4 linked regions of the Homo sapiens genome follow. The protein of the gene in region 1 purifies or fractionates together with the protein of each later gene. This does not show direct contact. Each region holds a gene or a part of one and is shown in the gene's direction. Other genes may lie near its edges.

Evidence for each region.
Region 2: the proteins of HIPK4 (region 1) and ABCD3 purify together in Homo sapiens (affinity purification with mass spectrometry, with the first as the bait; one large-scale study listed by BioGRID). This does not show direct contact.
Region 3: the proteins of HIPK4 (region 1) and LBR purify together in Homo sapiens (affinity purification with mass spectrometry; one large-scale study listed by BioGRID and IntAct). This does not show direct contact.
Region 4: the proteins of HIPK4 (region 1) and SUGP2 purify together in Homo sapiens (affinity purification with mass spectrometry, with the first as the bait; one large-scale study listed by BioGRID). This does not show direct contact.

The regions. Positions count from the first base shown.
Region 1 is NC_000019.10:40,383,682-40,387,181, reverse strand, and holds part of HIPK4 (homeodomain-interacting protein kinase 4), read left to right. Parts: intron 1-3,042; coding exon 3,043-3,399; intron 3,400-3,500. UniProt on the Homo sapiens protein: Protein kinase that phosphorylates human TP53 at Ser-9, and thus induces TP53 repression of BIRC5 promoter. May act as a corepressor of transcription factors.
Region 2 is NC_000001.11:94,512,389-94,515,775, forward strand, and holds part of ABCD3 (ATP-binding cassette sub-family D member 3), read left to right. Parts: intron 1-2,757; coding exon 2,758-2,814; intron 2,815-3,387. UniProt on the Homo sapiens protein: Broad substrate specificity ATP-dependent transporter of the ATP-binding cassette (ABC) family that catalyzes the transport of long-chain fatty acids (LCFA)-CoA, dicarboxylic acids-CoA, long-branched-chain fatty acids-CoA and bile acids from the cytosol to the peroxisome lumen for beta-oxydation.
Region 3 is NC_000001.11:225,414,539-225,418,038, reverse strand, and holds part of LBR (delta(14)-sterol reductase LBR), read left to right. Parts: coding exon 1-55; intron 56-2,706; coding exon 2,707-2,761; intron 2,762-3,500. UniProt on the Homo sapiens protein: Catalyzes the reduction of the C14-unsaturated bond of lanosterol, as part of the metabolic pathway leading to cholesterol biosynthesis.
Region 4 is NC_000019.10:19,027,018-19,030,517, reverse strand, and holds part of SUGP2 (SURP and G-patch domain-containing protein 2), read left to right. Parts: intron 1-3,500. UniProt on the Homo sapiens protein: May play a role in mRNA splicing.

The DNA.
Region 1 (3,500 bases):
TGCAAAGAAAGAACGAGAGGTACAAATGGCCAGGCACAGTGGCTCATGCCTAGAATCTCAGGACTTTGGGAGGCCGAGGTGGGAGGATTACTAGAGCCCAGGAGTTCAAGACCAGCCTGGGTAACATGGTGAAAACCCATCTCTACTAAAAATACAAAAATTAGCTGGGCATGGTGGCATGTGACTGTAGTCCCAGCTACTTGGGAGGCTGAGGCAGGAGAATCGCTTGAACGTGGAAGGTGGAGGTTGCCTTGAGCCGAGATTGCGCCACTGCATTCCAGCCTGGGTGACAGGGTGAGCCACTGTCTCAAATGAGAGACAGAGAGAGAGAGATACAAGCAAGAGATGGAAAGAGAATGAAGGAACTCAAAGCCCATACATACATTCATTCATTCACTCATTATTTACTGAGCCCCTGCTGTGTGCCAAGCCCTGTTCTAGGCATCTAGGGATACAGTATTGAACAAAATGGATAAATTCTTTGCCCTCGTGGGACTGACATCCTCGCTGGGGAGAGAAATGCTGAGAGAGGCCAGGTGCAGGGCCTCATGCCTATAATCCCAGCATGTTGGGAGGCTGAGGCAGGAGGATCACTTGAGCCCAGGAGCCATCCTGGGCAACATAGTGAGACCCATCTCTATCTCTACAAAAAGTTAAAAAATTAGCTGGGTATGGAGGTGCATGCCTGTGGTCCCAGCTACTCAGGAGGCTGAGGCGGGAGGATCTTGTGAGCCCTGGAGTTCGCGGCTACAGTGAGCTACGATGGTGCCACTGTACTCCAGCCTGGGTGATAGAGCAAGACCCTGTCTCTAAAAAGGAAAAAAGGGCTGGGCGCCGTGGCTCACGCCTGTAATCCCAACACTTTGGGAGGCTGAGGCGGGCAGATCATCTGAGTCAGGAGTTTGAGACCAGCCTGGCTAACATGGTGAAACCCCGCCTGTCTCTACCAAAAATGCAAAAGATTAGCGCTTGTAATCCCAGCTACTCAGGAGGCTGAGGCAGGAGAATCACTTGAATCCAGTAGGTGGAGGTTGCAGTGAGCCAAGATCACACCACTGCTCTCCAGCCTGGCCAACAGAGCGAGACTCCGTCACAAAAAAATAAATAATTAAAAAATAAAATTAAAATAAAAAATTAAGAGATATAGTGTGTGAAATGGCATTAAGAGCAATGGTGGACCTGGGTGCGGTGGCTCACGCCTGTCCTAGCACTTTGGGAGGCCGAGGCGAGTGGATCACCTGCGGTCAGGAGTTCGAGACCAGCCTGGCCATCATCGTGAAACCCCGTCTCTACTAAAAATATAAAAATTAGCTGCGCATGGTGGTGTGCACCTGTAATCCCAGCTACTTGGGAGGCTGAAGCAGGAGAATCACTGGAACCTGGGAGGAGGAGGTTGCAGTGAGCCAAGATTGCACCATTGCACTCCAGCCTGGGTGACAAGAGCAAAACTCTGTCTCAAAAACCTCCGACTCAAAAAAAAAAAAAAAAAAAAAAAAAAGAAAAGAAAAGAAAAAGAAAAACAGGGGCCTGGCGGGGGATAGAAAGGATGGGGACTGATGGCTGATGCTTTCACAGAATGATTAGGGAAGGTCTCACTGAGAAGGTGATCATTTTTTTTTGTCCTGCCTTTCACCTTTTGATAGAAAGGTGACATTTGAGTAAAGACCTGAAGGAGGTGAGGCAGGGAGCCCTGTGCTCATGCAGGGAAGAGCATTCCAGGCAGAGGGAACAGCGAGTGCAAAAGCCCTGAGCTGGGAATGTCTGACTTGTTCAAGGAATAGTGAGGAGACCCTTGTGGCTGGAGGAGGGTGAGTGATGGGGAGAGTGGGAGATGTGGCAGAGAGGTGACAGAGCAGACATTGGAGACCTGTGGGCCACGGTGAGGACTTTGGCTTTTGTCACAGGATGTGGCTATGAGCAGGGGAGGACCCAATCTATCCCGGGCGGCCACAGGATCCCTCTGGATGCTTGTGACAGACAGACTAGGGGGCAGAGGAGAGGAGCAGGGAGACCAGCGAGGAGACCCCCGCGTTGGTCTAGGTTGGAAAGGATGCAGGATAGGACCAGGGTCGGGGCTGTGGATGGCATGCAGAGGGAGCAGATTCTAGATCTGTTGGCTGATGGACAAGGTGTGGGGTGCAAGAGGAAGAATAGGGTCCTAACCCTCCTTTGCATAGTTCTAGTGGAGAGAAACAGAGACAGAGTCAGTCACTCGAACCAGACACAAAGGCTGGAAGAGACAGAGATAGGGACTTAACAACTACGGCCACAGCTGGGTGCGGTGGCTCATGCCTGTAATTCCAGCACTTAGGGAGGCTGAGGAGGGCAGATCATCTGAGGTCAGAAGTTTAAGACCAGCCTGGCCAACAGGGTGAAACCCCGTCTCTACTAAAAATACAAAAATTAGCAGGGCATGGTGGTGTGCACCTGTAGACCCAGCTATTCAGGAGACTGAGGCTGGAGAATCACTTGAACCCAGGAGGCAGAGGTTGCAATGAGCCAAGATTGCGCCACTGCACTTTAGCCTGGGCGACAGAGTGAGACTCGGTCTCAAAAAAAAAAAAAAAAACCAACAAAGGCTGGGTGCGGTGGCTCACGCCTGTAATCCCAGCACTTTGGGAGGCCGAGGCGGGTGGGTCACATGAGGTCAGGAGTTCGAGACCAGCCTGGCCAACATAGTGAAACCCCATCTCTACTAAAAATACAAAAAATTAGCCGGGTGTGGTGGTGGGCGCCTGCAATCCCAGCTACTCAGGAGGCTAAGGCAGGAGAATCGCTTGAACCGGGGAGGTGGAGGTTGCAGTGTGCTGAGATCGTGCCATTGCACTCCAGACTGGGCAACAAGAGTGAGACTCTGTCTCAAACAAACAAACAAACAAACAAACAAAAACCAACAAAGCAACTAAAGAATCACAGACCCAGAGATGGCCAGAGTCAAATAGCAGATGCAGGAAGATGCCAGGTGAAAGATGCCGGGGTGGCCCAGCTCGGCTGTCCCTGCTGCTTGACCTGCCCACTCGCCCTCTTCCCCACCCCCGACAGGTGATTGACTTCGGATCCGCCAGCATTTTCAGCGAGGTGCGCTACGTGAAGGAGCCATACATCCAGTCGCGCTTCTACCGGGCCCCTGAGATCCTGCTGGGGCTGCCCTTCTGCGAGAAGGTGGACGTGTGGTCCCTGGGCTGCGTCATGGCTGAGCTGCACCTGGGCTGGCCTCTCTACCCCGGCAACAACGAGTACGACCAGGTGCGCTACATCTGCGAAACCCAGGGCCTGCCCAAGCCACACCTGTTGCACGCCGCCTGCAAGGCCCACCACTTCTTCAAGCGCAACCCCCACCCTGACGCTGCCAACCCCTGGCAGCTCAAGTCCTCGGCTGACTACCTGGCCGAGACGAAGGTAAGGGAAAAGTTGGGTGAGGGCAGTCAGTGTGGGGGCTGTTACATGAAAAAAAATTCTAGGGTGGGCAACGTGGCTCACACCTGTAATTCCAGCACTTT
Region 2 (3,387 bases), on another chromosome or scaffold:
TTTATATATGGGAAATATATTTAAATATGTTGTTTTATATAAATGAGATATAAAAGATAAAAGATATAAAAGATACCTCATTTATATAAAACAACGTATTTAAATCTATTTCACTTTACCTCATTACTTAGAGTTAATAAACTGACCTTTTCTTAATTTTTCCATTAACTTTATCTAAACATTAGAGTTTTTTTATGAATAAAACTCAACAATAATTATTTGGCAATTTTTAATTTATCCGTTTTATTTTCTAGCCTGAGCAATATTTTACCAAAGCTGCTTTTAGTAGCTAAGTCTGAGGCTATCTTTATTGGTTCCATTCTTTAAGTAATTATTCAATAGTATCAGTTTTCTTTCTTTGAGAAATTGTTACCAACATCTATACTATGGTTAAATTTTGGAACAAATGTAGTATATCCTAGCTGTTTTATAGTTTCTATATAAGTAAATGAGGTAGATGAGGATTTTTAACATTTTGTATGTGTTCTTTGGGAGTTCTCAATAAATAAAAAAGGTCATATTGAGTATATATATTATGAATTCCTACTATTCCAAGTGTGTTCATGATCAGCAGCAGCAGTGTCACCTAGGGGTTTGTTAGAAATGCAGAATTTCAAGCCCTGCTAAATCAGAATCTGCATTTTACCAAAATTCTAAGATGATTCAAATGCGCATTAAAGTTTGAGAAGCACTGGCGTGATGATGAAAGAATTTGCTATTCTTTGTAGAAAGATTTTAACTACTGATTTTATCTTGTTAATGATTTATTTTCTATTCTTGAATTTGCTTTGGTAATATATAATTATACATTTGTTCATGTTGGTTTTCAAATATATAGGTATTAGAGATGTTTATGGTATTCTCATGTACATAAAACCATGTAGTCTGCAGTTGATTCAATGACATAGCAGCTCTTTGCTGGTAATTTTGACCACGTGATTTCCTCTTATGCTCTAGCTATAGGCTTGAAGTCCCCACATAAGACTGTATAAATTCTATAAAACATCAGTTCCATTTAAAAGAAAATTCATATGGGGCCTCATTGATAATTTAAATTACTGTGATACCACTTAAACATGTATAAACATGATGAGGTGTGAATTCCTTAAGCTTAGAGCTCTTTTACAGCTACAAAACTAATATAAACTTACACATTAAATACATTAAATACAGACAAAACTTAAATACAGTTTCAAATTTACAACATTAAAGAGACCTATGATACCGTTTAGATGAAACTAAACCAGTGGTTTGGGATTTAATTAAGGAAAGATAGAATCTGAGGTTCAAATTTCATTATTTTGCATTTTGCTTTTTATTTTGACTTATATACTTCATATATTTTTTATATCCTCATGTAAAGAATGTGTGCATTAAGTAGATGTCTAATCCAATTATTGTAGTATCATAAACAGAGAAATAATATCTTAAATGAGCTCTGAAAAATCAGAAAAGTGTGGTATGGTTGAAATATATGTTTTATTAATACTGATAATATGCTTATTTTATTATGCAATTCCTAACCAATTTAAGAACCTTTTTACAGTGCAGCCAAACTTATTACACATTAGAAGTTTTATTTTATATCACTTTGGCAATCAGAGGTGTAGATACAAACCGAGGAACTTGAATCTCATGGTAAAAATGATCTAGAATATACTTATAATGATCTTTTAAAAATTATCATCAAAATGAAAATAAAATTAAGAAACCATGGTGGAAATTTCCCAGATGCCCTAAGCATGCATTTGCCAGCCTTGAGTGATCCACTTGGAGGAACAGTGACCCAGAGTGGGGTTTCTCAGTCCTGGCACTATTGACCTTTTCACTGTTAATTCCTAGTTGGGCAGGGTTGAGGGTTGCTGTGCACTGGAGGATGTTTAGAAAGCATCCCTGGCCTCTGCCCATTAGATGGCAGTAGTGCTTTCAGTTGTGAAAATAAAAATGCCTCCAGTCATTGCCAAATGTCCCCCTGAGGGACAAATATCACTGACCTCCCCACCTTGGTTGAGAACCACTGATCTAGAGCAACTACAGCTATTATCTATTAATGTTTTTTTTTTTTTGAAAATCTGAAGTACAGATCTATAAATACGTATTCACAATCTGAAATCCAGAAAGTGCTTAAATTTAAAACATTTTTCATAATTTTGTAGCAAGCTCACTGGGTAAAACTTCGCCTAAGCTAACAAAAGATATTTAAACTCTATATGTCTCAATATCAGTGTCCATGTGTGTTGCTACAGAAACATTTATGTGTTTAATTATAAAATTCTGCCTCAGAACTCTCTGGGGGTGTTAAATAATACATTTTCAAAATCTGAATTCCAAGACACATTCCAAAACAGTAGTTTACGGTAGGGGATTATGACCCTGTATTTGAAAAGCAAGTTGACTGTCAACAATGCTATACTGATTTAATTTTTCCTGATTTTGACCTTTGGCTATTTTTATCCTTCTCATATTCCTCTCATATATTTTTCACAATAAAATAGGAGACATGATAGGAGATATGTTTTTTGCCCAAAAGAAAATAATACACTTAATGCCAGTACCTGGTAGTTTTTATTATGTGGTTGATGGCCAGTACTTTCCATTGCTATAAACATTTTGCATCCAGTTGTAAATTTTTTCTCATTGACATTGCTTTTTAACTTTAGTCACTGAAGACTGTCCTCTTAACAGCTTAAAGTACATGGACTAGTTTAATTTGTGACTCTGTTACTCATTAAACCTAAATCATTTTCTTTGTATTAGGTTGGCATCACTCTCTTCACTGTGTCTCATAGGAAATCTCTTTGGAAACATCATGAGGTTTGTATTTCTTTCATTGAATGGTACAGTGAAATTTTATTTTCTTTAAAATATGAATTCAGGTTAATATGGTTTTAGATTTTATGGTTTGTATTCCCTTAAACATATGTCTTAAGGAGAAAAGGTGGTTTTGTTTTATAAAATAGGATTTTCTTAAATATTATAGTTGTCAGTTTTGAAAGCAATGGTGTAACAGTTTTTCTCCAGTTTTATAAGTGACTCTTATCTGTTAATAGTAACTGACTAAACTTTGCATAGTCTTATCACAAATATGGTGAAGTAAACTTTTCTTATCCAGCAGTGACAGAGGAGAAAAAGTCTTAAGAAGAATTAGATGGCAAAAAATTTAGGGACATTTTTAATAGAGGTCAGGACTACAAGGGGGAAGATTGAATAACATAAGCTATGTTTATCAATGTACTGTAGTAAGTAGGATTCATTAGATAGTCACTATAATTTACAAAGATATTCAAATGAGGCTTACATTGGTGCACGTGTATTACTTATTCTGGTGCTTCAGTAGTGCCATTCTCACTATGTCAGTTCTTTTCAACTCAATGTGAAATGCTCAAA
Region 3 (3,500 bases), on another chromosome or scaffold:
CTACCTCCTGTGGTTTTTGATTCAAGTCCTGTTCTACCTACTGCCAATTGGAAAGGTACGTTTATGGTAATTCTGTTTTGTTTTAATAAGATGAGGTCTCACTATATTGTCCAGGCGGGTCTCCAATTTCTGGGATCAAGTGATCCTCTTGCCGCAGCCTCCTGAGTCGCTGGGACCACAGGCCTGTGCCATGCTGCCCAGCCTTAGAGTAGTTTAAAGGTTAAAGGCTGTTGTTGGTCATAATTCCCAAAACTTAGTTCATGAAGCCATTTCTCTTGTGCTGTCTGTATAACACTTGCTTATTAGGAGGAACTTAAAAAAAAATCTGATTGAGATTTCTTGTGTAACTTTTCAAACCAAATAGAAAAGAATAGGCTATTTTGCAAAGTAGCCGACTCTCAGTGGAGGTTGCTATGGAAAAAAAATTCACTCTTAGTATGTGTCATTTCAGATGCAGCATTTTAAATGATTAATTGATAGGCTACTGGGCTCGATGGACTTTAGTCTACATCTTTTACTTTAAAAAAGTATGAAAAGTTTCTAATTTTCATCTCTTTCAGAAGCTTGTTGTCAAGAACATTTTACGTTGTTTTCAGATTCCTGCAATATCTTTAAAATTTGTCTCTCCATTGCTAAGTGTAGTTTTTTCTTCTTTCAGTAGAATCCTTTACTTGGATATATTTAAAGAAACATGAGATTCCCTAAGTAATAAATAATTTATTTAAAGATCTTATTCTTAGGGCTTTGCAAGTTTGCCAACTGTCTGTAAACCAAAGGATCGGTTTTACTGGTGAATGCCAGTGATAGGAGGGTAGAGCTGCAGGCTTAATACTGTGGAGTGAGACCATAACTTTAGTGGCTCTAGCAAGGATTTTTGTGATAAAGACCTTCAGTCATTTCTACAGTAAGCCTCTACAGTTAAATTCAGATTCATTTAGGGTAAGGTGATTTCAGAGTATCAAGGAAAGCAGTTTTGGTGTTTAAAGTCATATATGTATATACTCATAGACTAAAGTGACTAAAAGCATATATATTAAAATATATATTAATATTATGCAGTCATCCCTTGATATCCTTGGGGAGTGGTTCCAGGACCTCCTGTACATACCAAAATCTGAGGATGCTGAAGGCCCTGATAAGAAATAGTATAGTATTTGCATATAACCTGTGTGCATCTTCCTTGTATACTTTGTTGCCTTTAGGTTGCTTATAATACCTAATACAACGTAAGTGCCATGTAAATAGTTATCATACTGTATTAGGGAATAAGGACAAGAAAAAGAAGTCTGTACATATTCAGCTCAGATGCAATTTTTTCCGAAATATTTTGGATCTGGTTGGTTGAATCCATGGATGTGGATCCCGTCGATACGGAGGGCTGACTGTATATTTGGATCTATATATTCACAGATTAAAGCCTAACACAGCATTTACTAGACTCCTTTAATAGATAAGGATCATCTGAAATTAGCATGTGGCATTTTACTAATCCTGTGATCTCAAACAGCTTTTACGTTTCTCTTGGGAGAGGAGGAATGCTAGCTAATGAAATCTGTAGCTAATGATAAGATAAAGTAGTTTAGCCCAGAGCAAATGATACTATATTTATATTTTACAGTTTGAAATGAATTGCTACATTTCTGAATAGTTATTTTGTGGGGTAAAACGTGGCTGCATTGAGCAAGTGGACTTTTTACTGAGCCAGTTCTATTGGGTACCATGCCTGTGGGTATCTCTGTGCTGAATGCTGTGAGTGATGCCGAATGAAGAGAGGAGATGGTTCTGATGCATGATGCGTGCTCACAGTCTCTCTCTCTCTCTCTCTTTTTTTTTTTTTTTCTTGAGACAGGGTCTTGCTCTGTTGCCCAGGCTGGAGTGCAGTGGTGCAATCTGCAACCTCCTCCTGGGCTGAAGTCATCTTCCCACTTCAGCCTCCCGAGTAGCTGGGACCACAGGCGCGTGCCACCAGGCTTGGCTAGTTTTTGTATTTTGTATTTTTGTAGAGAGGGGATTTCACCATGTTGCCCAGGCTGGTCTCCAACTCCTGGACTCAAGTGATCCTCCCACCTTGACCTCTCAAAGTGCTGGGATTACAGGCATGAGTCACCACACCTGGTTTCTCACAGTCTCTTATTGCAGATAAAAGAATCACATGAAATGGTTAAATAACTGGATGGGCAATATATATATAATATATAGCAGAGCAAGTAAGCATATGAGTATGCGTCATCAAATAGCACTTGGGTCATAGTAGAGTGGATAAACAGGGTAGAGCCCAATTGAAAAGGACCCCACAAATGGAAGACAATGGAATCATACTGTTACTTTGTAAGAGTATGGTAGCCATTGGTAGATGTTTGAGCTAGGGATCCACTAGATATAAAGGTATTTAAGCACATTTAGTCTTGAGGTGGTGGTACACAGGAGTGTGGCAGGGAGCGTGGCTGTTGCAGTTGCTTGGTCCTACACTAGGAAGTCATTACTGAATTTGTATTTAAGATAAATTCCTGAAGGTGGAATTGCGTCATTAAAGGGCTTGCCACTAGGGTTTTTGAAACATATTACTAAATTTCCATGTTACAAGATATCTTCCTTCTTGGGCGTGTTGAAAATTAAGTGATACTAGAATATATATATGTGTGTGTGTATATATGTATATATGATGGTGATGTGCTTAGTAAATTTGTAAATTTTTTTTCTTTTAAGGTTGTAGAAGGAACGCCTCTTATTGATGGAAGAAGACTCAAGTATAGATTAAATGGTGATTTTCTTTTTTTAAGACTCAAATTGATGATTTGATAGCTTAAACTTCTAAGTGTTAAACTCTTTGTTAAAGCTGATTAGACCAGAGTAGTAAGTGATAAATTATTTCTTAGTAGTTGGAAGAGCAACTGTTTATACCTGTAGCCAACTTGTATAAATTATGCCATTAAAGTAACATAGCCTCTTAGTCACTCTTGTCCACTCTCCAGTTTTATTTTCTTAATAGTGCTCATCACTGTTAGAAATCATTGCACTTGTCTAGGATTTTATCACCTGAGGTGTTACACGGATGTGGGCATCCAGGCCACTCCTGCTGCGTGAGCTGCTCTTGTCCTTGCTCATGTCCTCTGGGTTGTCCCTTGAATATTCGTCACACACACTTCCTGGGCCTTTGCCTGGAGAACTTACCCCCAAACGTCTGACACCTGCATCTTCACCTCCATCTGTCTTCTGCTGAGAGAAGCCTTCAGGTCCCTTTCTCTCCCCTGCTCTGTTTTGTTTTTCTGTCTGACATTTGTGCCTCCACACATCAGTGTATTTGTCTCTTCATTAGGGTCTCTCCACTAGAATGTGGCTTCATGGGCTAGGACTTGGCTATGTTCATTGTGACACTCTTGGTGCTAGGAAGATGGGCATGTAGTGGGTGCTCATTCATATGTGAGTGCTGGATGGATGAGTTGTGAGCTTGCTGGGCAGCTCAATAAATGGATAGACCTTGCTCCCTGTGGGTCCGGCAT
Region 4 (3,500 bases), about 21 Mb from region 1:
TTTGAGACGGAGTTTCACTCTTGTCTCCCAGGCTGGAGGGCAATGGAGGGATCTTGGCTCACTGCAACCTCCGCCTCTTGGCTCACTGCAACCTCCGCCTCCTGGGTTCAAGCGATTCTCCTGCCTCAGCCTCCTGAGTAGCTGGGATTACGGGCATGCACCACCACGCCCAGCTAATTTTTCTATTTGTAGTAGAGATGAGGTTTTACCATGTTGGCCAGGCTGGTCTCGAACTCCCGACCTCAGGTGATCCACTTGCCTTGGCCTCCCAAGATGCTGGGATTACAGGCATGAGCCACCGAGCCCAGCCCAGTTTTGTTTTTTGGTGTTTTTTATGTTTTTGTTTTTTTTGTTTTTTGTTTTTTTTAATAGATATGGAGTCTTGCTATGTTTTCAGGCTGGTCTGCAACTCCTGGGCTCAAGTGATCCTCCCACCTCTGCCTTCAGCATGTTGCGATTACAGGCGTGAGCCACTGCTCCCAGCCCCAAGACAGGTTCTTGGATCCATTTCCTGGCTCCATCCCTGTCACCGCTGCCCAGGTTTAAGCTCTACTAGTTCTTTTTTTTTTTTATTTGAGACAGAGTCTTGTACTGTCGCCCAGGCTGGAGTGCAGTGACGTGATTTTGGCTCACTGCGGCCTGTGCCTCCTGGATTCAAGCGATTCTCCTGCCTCAGCCTCCCGAGTAGCTGAGATTACAGGTGCCTGCCACCATGCCCGGCTAATTTTTTTGTATTTATTTTAGTAAAGATGGGGTTTCACTATGTTGGTCAGGCTGGTTTTGAACTCCTGACCTTGTGATCTGCCCGCCTCGGCCTCCCAGAGTGCTGGGAGGATCACAAGGTCAGGAGATCGAGACCATCCTGTGAATGGTGAAACCCCGTCTTTACTAAAAATCAAAAAAAAAAAAAAATTAGCCAGGTGTGGTTGTGGGTGCCTGTGGTCCCAGCTACTTGGGAGGCTGAGGCGGGATAATGCCGTGAACCCGGGAGGTGGAGCCTGCAGTGAGCCAAGATTGCGCTACTGCACTCCAGCCTGGGCGACAGAGCGAGACTCCATCTCAAAAAAAAAAAAAGAAAAAAAATGGCCGGGCGCAGTGGCTCAAGCCTGTAATCCTAGCACTTTGGGAGGCCGAGGCGGGCGGATCACAAGGTCAGGAGATCGAGACCATCCTGGCTAACACGGTGAAACCCTGTCTCTACTAAAAATATTAGCCGGGCGTGGTGGCGGGCGCCTGTAGTCCCAGCTACTCAGGAGGCTGAGGCAGGAGAATGGCGTGAACCCAGGAGGCGGAGGTTGCAGCGAGCCAAGGTTGTGCCACTGCACTCCAGCCTGGGTGACAGAGCAAGACTCCGTCTCAAAAAAAAAAAAATTTATCTGGGCATGGTGGCATGCGCCTATGGCCCTGGCTACTTGGGAGGCTGAGGCAGGAAGTTCGCTTGTGCCCAGGAAGTCGAGGCTGCAGTAAGCTGTGTTTGTGCCATTATACTCCAGCCTGGGCCAAAGAGTGAGACCCTGTCTCAAAAAAAGACGGCCAGGTGCAGTGGCTTACACATGTAATCTCAGCACTTTGGGAGGCCAAGGTGGGCAGATCACCTGAGGTCAGGAGTTTGAGACCAGTCTGGCCAACATGGTGAAACCCCGTGTCTACTAAAAATACAAAAATGTGGCAGGCCCCTATAATCCCAGCTACCCAGGAGGCTGAGACAGAAGAATAGCTTGAACCCAGGAGGTGGAGGTTGCAGTGAGCCGAGATCGCACCACTGCGCTCCAGCGTGGGTGACAGAACGAGACTCCGTCTCAAAAAAAAAAGACAGATTAGGGGGCCGTGGGTGGGAGAGGACTAGAAACCTAGCAGTATGCTAGGTGATTCTGGAACATTTCTGTGTTGCAAAGCAGTCTATCGTTTAGCCTTTCTCTGTTTCTCTGCTCCACTCTGAACTTTTCATCTCCTCATAAAGGGTATGAGAAAATTCTCTTGAGTAGAATCCAGCCATCACTCTCTGTCACTAATGTTCCCTCCCTAATCATGCCATCAATACCAATCATCAATACCTGGGTTATCACAGTGGATTTCTTGCAGGAACATCCACGTCTGTGCTCATCTCCTTTAATCTGTTCCCTGTGCAGCAGCCAGTGAGATCATCCCTCTGCTTAGAACTCTTCACTAGCCTTCTGTCTCTCCCAGAGTAAATTCCAGAGTACCACTGAGGGCCCGACTTGGATCTGGTACTCCTTCTCCATTTGTGTCTCTTATATTAGTGGTTCCCTAACTTTGTAGCACGTTAGCGTCACCTGGGGGCCTTTTAAAAACCCTGATGCCCAGGTCATCCCCTTATTTAATTAAGTAAGAATGTCTGGGGAGGTGGTCCCTGGGGCTCCAGTAGCAGAGTTTGGGAGCTGCCTTCCTACCACTTGGCCTTTCATTCCCTGTGTTCCCTTCTGTCTACATTGGCCCCCTACTGGTCCCACCTCAGGGTCTTGTCCTCATTCCCCCTCTGCCTGGAAGGCTTCCCTTTGTAACTGTACGGTCTGGCTCCTCATGCCAGGCCACTGCTGCTAGATAAAGTGTCAGAGCTATGCAGCGTGACACGGTGGCTCACGCCTGTAATCCCAGCACTTTGGGAGGCCGAGGTGGGCGGATCACAAGGTCAGGAGTTCCAGACCAGCCTGGCCAATGTGGTGAAACCCTGTCTCTACTAAAAATACAAAAGTTAGCCGGGCATGGTGGCGGGTGCCTGTATTCCCAGCTACTCAGGAGGCGGAGGCAGGAGAATCGCTTGAACCTGGGAGGTGGAGGTTGCGGTGAGCCAAGATCGCACCCTTGCACTCCGGCACTCCAGCCTGGGCAACAGAGCGAGACTCTGTCTCAAAAAAAAAAAGAAAAAAAAAAGTGTCAGAGCTACCCTCCTTGACTAGCCTGTCTCAAAATGTCATTGCCTCCTCAGGTTCCCACGTGCTTGATTTGTCTTCTTGGTACTTAACTTGCATCTGATATATTTTTGTTTATTGTCTGGCTCTCTCAACTGACAAGTTTGGAAGAGTTCTCATTTTCTTGCTGTAACTTCAGTGCCTAGTACAGTGCTTGCGCACAGTAGGTGCCCAGTTTGTACTTGTTGAACAAGTGAACTAGGATTTATATACGACTTTGGCTTCCTGTGGCCTCTTAACCTATTGCTACCTCCTGGCACCTCTCCTTCCCTGTTCATTTGATTTTTTTTTTAACTAGGTCATCGATTCTGATTGAAAAGCTAGAAAGAAAGGCATTCCATGAAAACTCTCCCTGAGGCCCACTGTTCTCATATGCCCGTAGTTCACTTCTCTTCCTCGCTTCTTACAGTTTCTCCATGTGTGATTAAGCAAATGCAAGTACATCTTCCCCTCCGCCCTTTTTTATTTTTGACAGAGATAGGGTCTCGCTATGTTGCCCAGGCTGGTCTCAAACTCCTGGGCTCAAGTGATCCTCCCACCTCGGCCTCCCAAAGTGCAGGGATTATAGGT